Regions from separate parts of the Homo sapiens genome. Here region 1 is linked to region 2. Evidence: fine-mapped expression QTL. A gene starts in region 2. The other region holds a variant in brackets. All regions are shown on one strand. Distances are between the middles of the regions. Region 1 overlaps CDC73 (cell division cycle 73). Region 2 holds the start of GLRX2 (glutaredoxin 2).

Evidence for each region. PIP is the estimated chance that this variant, and not a neighbour inherited with it, causes the effect. A credible set is the group of variants that fine-mapping cannot tell apart.
Region 1: its variant is the best candidate, but not a certain one, in a credible set for the expression of GLRX2 in whole blood (TOPMed, PIP 0.63).

Annotation. Positions count from the first base shown.
Region 1 is chr1:193,253,040-193,258,285 of GRCh38, reverse strand. CDC73 (cell division cycle 73) reads right to left here. Exons shown (of 17, transcript NM_024529.5): 17 at 3,471-5,246. Among named protein-coding and RNA genes, the nearest start is that of LINC01031, 49 kb to the left of the region's middle. The variant A/G (reference allele first, on the strand shown) is at 3,004.
Region 2 is chr1:193,102,525-193,107,770 of GRCh38, reverse strand. It overlaps GLRX2 (glutaredoxin 2), which reads left to right and starts at 2,357. Exons shown (of 4, transcript NM_197962.3): 1 at 2,357-2,507. The coding sequence starts at 2,389. RefSeq lists silencers at 2,179-2,418, 2,198-2,492, 2,469-2,568.

The sequences.
Region 1 (5,246 bases), 150 kb before region 2:
TTGGGTAAGATCTAGATAAAGTTCAGAATAGCATCTAACCATCTCACTGTAGGCAAAGAAAATTCACAACCTCCCAAGAATTCTCCCCTAAAACCCAGAACAAAGCAAACTGAGGAAATCAGCCAGCCCATAGAAAAGTCAAAGAAAAATCCTCAAGAATGAAAATGCTTTCCTACCACACTAAAATCTCCAGGGATTCCTTTTAGCCAGCCACCCACCATTGGGAACTGCTCAGGATATTCTCTCTTAGTAATGAATTGCACATACAACTGGGGGAAGTGACCCCCCAACTGGGGCAAGTGACCCCAGCACTTAATGAAACCTTAGAGGGCATAGCTCAGATTTTCCAACAAAGGTTTTAACCACTTTCAGTATCATTAAGCGACAAAAGTAGCAAAGAATACAAGAACTAGCCTCACATGAGAGCAAACTTAGAAAACAAGACTCAGAGGGTGGGAAGGCTGTCAATAGTGTCTTAGTAAAAGTCTTCATCATCTGGGCTAATGGGACAAGTATGTAATTCTTTAACAATTTGGATGTTGGAGAAAGGCACTGAAATGATCTATACCTTTAACATTTTATTAATTCATCTTTAAATATATTTTCATCTTTAAATATTCATCTTTAAATATCTAATCAAAGTTTTTAAAGCATGGATCCTGTAAAGCTAATGCCAACCAGTCACCGGTTACCTTCTCCTTGTTGCCATCTTTCTTCTCACTCCTATGCTTGTCATTCTCATTTCAACACTTACACGAGTAATTGCAGCCCCATAGATCCTTGACTCCTCATTTTAATGAATACCTCACCCTCTCTATCTCAGTTACTTCCAAGGTCTTGACTTTTTCTCATCAATATCAGATCACCTCTGAAGTCTTGACTTCACACATCCCATCCTCTGACCACCTCCCCCTATCTTTCAGGCTCACTTCATTGTTGTTATCAGTTCACAGGACAGCACCACTTTCTCACCATTCACCACCTTCCCTCTATCATGTATTCCTTGAACAGCTTAGATTCCATGTTTCAGTACTACAATTATTACCTTGAAAATATCTCCAACTCCCTGGCCTGCTTCTACTGCCATCAAAATAGCTTAAAAATCTAACTGCAATTCTCTATACCTGAAATCAAGCAACTAAATGTCACTGGAGAAAAATCACACTAGGTTTGCCTAGCTTTTCTTAAATTCATGACAACCCCAGAAGCATATAACGCTGTCCAAATTAGTATTTTCCCATTAAGCTGAAGTCGTCTTCTCCTCAAATTCCTACATCAAACTGCTTTAGCCTTAAACTACTTTAATGCATCTCAAATTTATTTCATCATCAGTGACCCTTACACTTCCTTTTTGTCCTCAGTAGTGCATTATGGAATAAAAATATATTATCTAAAAATATAAATATTTTAAAATTGTGATATAGTCAAGCCCTTTAAAAACATTAGTGATGCTTAATTGTGCTAAAACAACTGAATGAGCCACAAGGAAGTTCACTTGATCTCCCCCCATTTACACTGACTCGATAAACACTTTCAAACTATTCCATTTTAAAGAAAAATGTTTGTATTATTAAAAAGAGAGAAATAGATGGCCATTACACTTAGAGTATTAACATTGTGAACTCCATGAAGGCAGTTCTTCTGTGAGTATCCATTACTATATTTTATTAAAGTGAATATGTTGTATAACCCAATGTTTTGACTTGTACTTTGTTGGCAAAATAATCATAGTCCAATAAAATATCCAAATGTAATCAAAAGTATCTCCCAAATGTCTTCTGCTTCACTATGGTCTCAGCTCTATTTACATTACTTATGTAATAGAAATCATCATTCTCTAGATGAGGGTGAATTATAAACTATAAATAATTCTGTGTCAAAGGATCCACAAGTAATTATGAGACAGATTCAACAACAAAGCCTTCTTCAGAGCTACTTTACATTGTTTTCTAGGGTCATTTAAGAAAATAAAGAGGAAAAATTATTCCAACTCACCATAAATGCTGATAATTACATGAGTAAATATGAAAGTACTTCAGAAAATGAAAGAAAAAATGCTTATTTGGCAATGTGCTGTTATTTATATACTAGCACCTTTGAGCCTTAAAAAAATTCAACAGCATTTACAACACATGCTATATCTATTTTAGCTATGCAGATGCTCACTGAAAAGCAGATAATCAAAGGAACAGAACAGCAGAAATAAAATACATATTTAGTGGGCACTTATGAATTGAATAAAAATTAGGTTTGAATATAGCCCATTAAACTCATCATTAAAGAAATTTTGTTGCAGAAGATTCACAATTATTGGTACCACTGACATGATGCTGCTGTTAATGCTCTGATTATATGAGTACAGTTTGTTTTGAAACTACAAAATGTTAAAATCAGAATGCTCAAACTGTGAAGGTAATGTAATTTACCAGGACACACTCTTAATTCTACTATAATAATAACATAGAAAATTTGACCATAATCAAACAGTAAGTTCAGCAGAGCATGAACTTGCTACCATTACGAACTATGATTCTATACATTATTTAACTCGTTAACAGAAACTGTAAATGGTTTTAACTCATTAGTTTCCAAAGTGAAATTTATATTTCATTTATTCCTCAGAGAAATACTATGCCTGACAAATCCCAATAATCTTTTCATGTAAAGATAGCATTCCAGCCCACAATACAGCTTCTAACTTCTTCGTATGAATGTTTTTGGGGGATTGAGGACAAAGGGAGAATGGAAATGTCCCTAGTGCTCTTAAAACAAAATAGGGCAACATGTTTTATTTACAATTGAACCTAAAATTTAAGAGCCCACCAAACTGGAATCAGAATGAACAGAACAGGCCAGGCATGGTGGCTCACGCCTGTAATCCCAACATTTTGGGAAGCCGAGGCAGGTGGATCACCTGAGGTCAGGAGTTCAAGACCAGCCTGGCTAACATGGTGAAACTCTGTCTCCACTAAAAAATACAAATATAGCCAGGTGTGGTGGTGC[A/G]CACCCATAATCCCAGCTACTCGGGAGGCTGAGGCAGGAGAACTGCATGAACCCAGGAGGTGGAGGCTGCAGTGAGCCAAGATCGCAGCACTGCACTCCAGCCTGGGTGACAGAGTGAGACTCCATCTCAAAAACAAACAAAGAAAAACAAACAGAATGAAAAATAAAACAAAGAAAACAAAACAAAGAAAAACAAAAAGAATGAGTAGAATATTTTATGAGTTCACATGGCACCCAAACTTAAACTCTAATTAAGAACCACTTTGAGAAACAGCACCAACTGGTGGTTAAAAAATCACTTACAGCACTTACTCTATGTACATGAACTGCATTACTTATGAAGCATTATAATCAAACTCAGGTTAAATAGCTTTTAGTAAATTTAAAGTGGACAGAAATGGAATTCAATGGCAAACAAAATCCTCAGACAGATCATTTGCTTAAATTCGACATAGCATGAACCCCACTTTTTGAATTTTGGCAATAAAACTAGTTTTATTTCATTAGCTTTACTCATATAAAAATGCTTCCCACTTTTCAGTAAATGGCACATATTTATAACTTCCAAGATGCCCTTATAAAGATTACCTAAAATAATACACAGAAACCCAAAACACATAAAAAACCTGCAAGTATTATCTATTATATACTAACTAAATATAAATCTTTATACATCTATTATACATTTTCAATTTTTCCTTAGTTATTATTCCAACAGATATAAACAATGCTGGGATCAACATACTTGCAAATGTGCCAACAAATATGCCAGAATATATAGGACATGGCATTTCAAAATTCCCACTCCAATTCTTAACTTAAGTCAACTTTAGTCATTTCTCCACTTTTTATTTCTATCATTAGAATAGCTGGGTGAATCTCAAACACAAGTGAATAAATAGTAGAAATTCAGTCAAGTAATATTAAGGCTAATGTAATTAAATTTTCATGTTGTACTTTTTTAAAGAAACAGAGCAGCTGCCAACTTTTCAGCTGAGAACAAATTTCTATAGTTCTTATTTTATAAATTATTTCTCAGCATTCTATATGGACTTTAACCAGACAAACCAATAATTTCTTTATTAAGAATCTTTTTTTAAAAAGTATGTGTATATGAAGGGCTTTAATAAACTTCCAAAAAAATTAAAAATAAAAAATTTAAAAAGACTTATCTTACTCATAATTTTGCATTTAAACAAGCAATTTCAAAACACAAAGTTTACAGCTACTTTCTAAGCCATTAATTTGACTAGCTTTTATAAATAATTGTTGTATTTGTAATATTATAAAATATACTGCTAGTCTCAAAAAATTTTATATACTTTAGTTCAACAAATATTCCTCCCCACCCCTCCAAAAAAGAACAATGTAATCACTTTAATTTTTGTTAGCAGTCAGAAAAATTTTTATTTAGGAAAAATATTCCCTCAATATTTATTAGATAATGAATCTTATTTAAATGAATAGTTTACTTTTACTTTTCTGTGTAGACCAATTTAAAAGTATGCCACTTTCCTTTCATAAGCAAACTGTATTTGTCTCATTCTACATGGCAGATCAAAAATTAATACTTCTTTCTGCCTTAAAAATTATGAGATTTTCCTCATTATGAATTAGTTGTTTTTATATGGATTACTGTTGTGCTGCTAAAAACAAATGTTAGTAAAAGTTATGGAGACATGGGAAAAAAACAAACTATAATACTAGTTAATAATGAAATACATTAAACATTGTTTAAATATTAAACAGTAAAATACTCCTATATTAAATAAATAATTAAAAATTGCATTTGTCAATGGGAATATAGGCCAATACCACCAATAAAAGGGATGGTCTAGTGCAAAGGGTGGCCACAAAACAACAACAACAACAAAAAATCAAAAACCACACATACATACAGAAAAGAAGGAAGAGGAAACACATTTAATACTGGTACTGTTTTCAATAACAAATTAAACCAGTGATTCTGAATCCTTCCTGCACATTCAAATTACCTGGAGAACTTTAAAAAAAATACTGATGACCAGGTCTTGTCTCAAATTACATGAAAATGGGAATCAAGATTCAGGCATGGATATTTTTAAAAACTCTCCAAATGATTCTAAAATGCAGTCAGGGTTGAGAGCAACTGATTGAAACCTACATATTTCTTACTGTTCCTTGACTGAGAAGAATGTCCTATAAATATAGAAATAGAACTTTTTCCTTTACAGGTTGGGCATACAAGGGTATCTCCAGTTAGC
Region 2 (5,246 bases):
CTTTCTTTCTTTTTTTTTCCAGACAGTCTTACTCTGTCGCTCAAGTTGGAGTGCAGTGACGCAATCTCAACTCACTGCAACCTCTGCCTCCCAGGTTCAAGCGATTCTCCTGCCTCAGCCTCCCGAGTAGCTGGGATTACAGGCGCGTGCTACCATGCTCGGCTAATTTTTGTATTTTCAGTTGAGATGGGGTTTCATCATATTGGCCAGGCTGGTCTTGAACTCCTGACCTCAGTTGATCCACCCATCTCAGCTTCCCAAAGTGCTGGGATTACAGGCGTGAGCCACCGCACCTGGCCCCATTTTCTTTCTTGTGTGCAAGTGTGAGAACACAAGATCTACCCTCTTAGCAAATTTCAAGCATACATTGCGATTTTCCTAACTATAGTCACATTGCTGTACTTTAGCTCTCTAGAACTTACCTATCTCGCATAATTGAAACTCTGTACCCTTTGACCAACATCTCCCCATTTCCACCTTCTCCCAGGCCCTGGCAACCACCGTTCTACTGTCTGCTGACATATTTCTTAACTTGCTATTGCAGTCATCACAACTATGACCAAAAATAATAATCACTTCTGTAGCTACCCCACGAAGCACAAAGAAGTTGAAAATTATCAATATATTTATTAATATATTATGCTGAATTCAGGCATAACACTTTCTTCTGAAGTACTTTACATTCTGAAATCCTTAAAAAAATCTGTCCAGTGAATTCTGTGCTTGATAATAGTCCATCTATGCTGTATTAAAATTAAATTGTAACATGATCGGTTCACCTCATAATGATCTTTATTTCATAAAACAATTTGAGATGAGGTAAAATTTGACTTCAAAACTAACATAACACCATAAATTTCCAAAATAGTTTTATAAAAAAATTAAAAAGCCCACAACACTATAGATAGATAACATACCTTAATTTTTATTTTATTTTATTTATTTATTTTTTTATGAGACGGAGTTTTGCTCTTGTTGCCCAGGCTGGAGTGCAATCGTGTGATCTTGGCTCACTGCAAACTCTGCCTCATGGATTCAAGCGATTCTCCTGCCTCAGCCTCCCGAGTAGCTGGGATTACGGGCATGCGCCACCACGCCCGGCTAATTTTGTATTTTTAGTAGAGACGGCGTTTCACCAATATTGGAGGGGCTGGTCTTGAACCCCCAACCTCAGGTGACCCGCCCGCCTCGGCTTCCTAAAGTGCTGGGATTACAGGACTGGCCACTGCGGGAGCTGCGGCAGCTGCGGCCTCTGGGTACGGGGTCAGCGGGCAGTCCTGTAATGGCCACATTACAGGACAGGCCATCGCGCCTGGCCACATGCCTTAATTTTCAAAGTCAAATTTGTCTTTAAAAAGAATGAATTCCTACCCTTTGGGGGTATTTATTTTTGCAACTAACTTCCATCCTTTTATTAAGTAATCAAACATAGCCCATTTGAATGTTGGAAAAGAACTGTCAGAAATACAAGTTCTTATTTTGTACTTTGGTAACATGAATTTTACACTTAGTTGAACATGAAGAATCAAAAAAGCTCTGGATTGTTGTAATAATTGTTTAGAATTTTAGATGTACCATTTGACCTTTGACTTTAAGATGAATTTCAGTGTCCTCAGTAAATAAAGGCTTACCCCCAACCTTAAATAGTGACGCACAAAGGCTATTATTACCACCACTGAGTGGCTTAAATAATCCTGTCAACAGCAATCGCCCATTTCCAAAGCCATGGTGAAACATCTCTGTGCTAATTTCTTTTGTTTTGTTTCCTAATTTTTTTTTTTTGGCAGGTGGTGGGAAATAATCTTTGTCTTCTTTGGAGTAAACCTTCAACACCGGATTTTTTCTTTTAATTATGGATGTAAACCCCAATATCCCCATAATTTACATTGGGTCTCGACCAATTGCCTAATTATAAGAGGATATATTTAGGCTCTTATTTCATCCACACAAAAACTTGTGTAACAGGTAGTTGGAAACATCTGAGGCACCACTTTGATTCTGTTTTGGATGGTCATGTTTTTTCTCCTCCGTTTCCCCAGCATGTCTGCCACCATCCTCATGCACTGCTTCCAAGTGCCTGGGAGCCTTTATGAGCGTCCCTAAACCTAAAAGAATCCAGAGGCGGGGCTCGGATGAACCCTCGAGATAAGCAAGTGAGCCGCTTCTCCCCTCTAAAGGATGTTTACACGTGGGTGGCACTCGCTGGAATCCAGCGCTCGGGCAGCCCTGGGAGGACGCGCTCAGCTGCGAGGAGGTGACCGGCGGCGGCGCGGGCAGTCCGGAGGGGCGGGACGGGGCGGGGCAAGGCGGGGGCCGGGCCGGAGGAGGCGGGCTCCCGGGATCCGCGGTGTCCGGCAGTAGAGCTCGCTGCAGATCCGGGCTCTGACCATGATTTGGCGCCGCGCGGCGCTGGCGGGGACGCGGCTGGTTTGGAGCAGGAGCGGCTCGGCAGGCTGGCTTGACAGGGCGGCGGGAGCTGCGGGAGCTGCGGCAGCTGCGGCCTCTGGGTACGGGGTCAGCGGGCAGGAGTGCCGCGGCGTGGTGCGCAGGCCTTGCGGGGGTCTGGAGAAAGCGGTGGGCGGAGGTGCCCCTTTGCCCCGGCGCCGGGTGGGCGAGGCGTACTAGCGCGTGGGCTCTGAGTCATAACACGCAGAGGCGCTCGAGGGATGGGCAGGGAAGGGTGCCCTCCGCGGCTGTGCTGACTTCAGGAGCCTGTGACTCTCGCGTTGAAAATACTTCACTCATGTTCACTTAGGCCATCCCTCTGTGAATTGCTACATAAAATACAAGACGCCGCAATCAATTGGAATTTCTCTGAAAGAGCGAATGATTCTTAGTCCAAGTGTGTCCCAAATACTGCAGTGGACATAGGAAAAACGGAACAGTTTTCTGGTGTTTGGTTACAATTCTAATTTGACCGGGCGTCCTGCATTCTTGTTTGCTAAACTTAGCCACCCTACTGCAGGAAGTGAAGGCGATGATTCCCGCTGAATGGCCAGAGCTTTTAGGATAGAGGCTGACTGATGGTGATGCCGCCTGCGGCTAGACCGAGGATAGTGCTTTCCTTACACTTCCTCGTTTGGAATATCAGCGGCTTCGGGACCTGCAGTGGAAGGGAACTGCGGCTGTGCTGCCCACGCCCGCGCGGCTGGTGCCTGGCGGTCCTGCCGGCTCGCACTTCCGCGCCTGCCACTGCGCACTTGGCCGGAGAGTCTGTCTCGCTATCTACTTGATCTGGGAGCTTCTATCAGTTTTGCAAGATTCTAGGAATCTCAAGTTTAACTTTCCAGACCAAGCTAGAGACCCCTCCTGAAGGGCTAATCACAGGCTGTTAAGTGTTTGACAGCTCTTTGAGGCCCCGCCGTGTTTTTTTCTGCGTATCCCTGGGGTCAATATAGCACTTTGCCTACTTAGCACACAGTAGGCGCTCCATAAATGTGGCATGACTAGGTGCTTCATCTGTGTTGAAATGAAATGTTTATTGTGCACTTACTTCCTCCGTGCATGTTTCTATTCATAGTTCGCGACAGTTTTTACCAAGGTCAACTAGAAATTGAAGGGAAAGGGTGTCTTCCAGAAACTTTTATTTGGGTAATATTTCAGAATGCACCTCCTACCTCCTCTCACTACCCAAGAAAACATTCTCTTGTGTTCTATTGGAGCTCCTTCAGTAGTAAATGCTGTAGTAGATGGTTTGGGTATGACAGTTTAAGTGCTGGACCTGAGATGAAAGGACTTGCTTTCTTAGTTGATAAACCAAATACAGCTTGCTGATTTATTCCACCAATGCTCTTCCTTAGGGCTAGGCCAGTGCTGCCTAACCTTTTCTGGTTTAGGCTTCAGGAACTCAACTTTCTTTTATCTTAAAGCTTCACCCTCCTCTCAGGTTGGCTGCAGTCTCCCTAGCTCGCTACCCTTAACTCCTTCCTGAGTTAAGCGCACAGGACTTTTTTTTTTGTTTTAAAGTGTTCCTTGCTAATACTATTAGGAAGCAAGGAATAATAGATTGTAAACATTGGGTAGGTTATAATGTTATAATGTTTAATTCCTGTCTCTTACTCTTCTTTGTTATAACTGAACAAACTGATGTTTGCTGTAGCTTCCTCACTCTAGGTGAGCTGATATCATAATCGTTCCCCCTTATCCGTGGTGGACACGTTCCAAGACCCTCGGTGGATGCCTAAAACCTCGGATAGTACTGAACCCTATACATGCTATTTTCCTATACATACTTGCCTATGATAAAGTTTAATTTATAAATTAGGCAGAGTAAGAGATTAACAACAATAATAAAAGAACAATCACTTTAATAACAAAATGCTCATTTCAAGGAATCCCTTGCTGAATCTTCTCATAGGCCCAGTGCTTTTTGGCATAACACATTGCTGTCAGTTGGAACACTTTTTCTGTTCTTGTCTCCACAAATTTAATACCTTTTCTGGCTTAACTAAGCACTTATACCTTGTGGCTGTAACTTGCAGTTTGAGGTGTGACATCAAAACTGCCATGAATTTTTTACTTCTTTACAACTGCACTGATAGAAGATCCGTTCTTACCATAGACCTTAGCAACCTCAGCGTGTGATTTTTTTTTTCCTATTAGGTGGAGAACTTTCACCGTTTCACTTAAAGGAAGCACTTTAGGGCTTCTCTTTGACGTACCTGAATTGCCAGCATCACTACTCTAGTGGTTTGGAGCCATTATTATTATTATTATTTAAGACGGAGTTTCACTCTTGTTGGAGCCATTATTAAGTAAAATAAGGGTTACTTGAACACAAGCATCACCACACTGTGACAGTCGATCTGGTCACCAAGACAGCTGTTGACTAAAGCGTGGGGAGCTTATACAGAGTCCATATGCTGGACAAAGGGAGGATTCATACCCTGGGTAGGAGGAAGCTAGATGGCTCAAGATTTCATCATGCTACTTAAAACTTACGAACTATTTTCTTCTGAAATTTTCCATGTAATGTTTTTGGACCACAGCTGACCTTGGATAACTGAAACCGTGGATAAAGGGGGACTACTGTGTAGGGCAGATGTTCATTATCCAAGGATAAGATGTACTGGAAAAAGCTATTAGAGTGGATTCACTTAAAATAAGACTAGTATTTCAGGCCAGGCGCGGTGGCTTACACCTGTAATCCCAGCACTTTGGGAGGCCGAGGTAGGTTGATCATATGAGGTCAGGAGTTCGAGACCAGCATGGTCAACATGGTGAAACCCCATCTCTACTAAAAATAC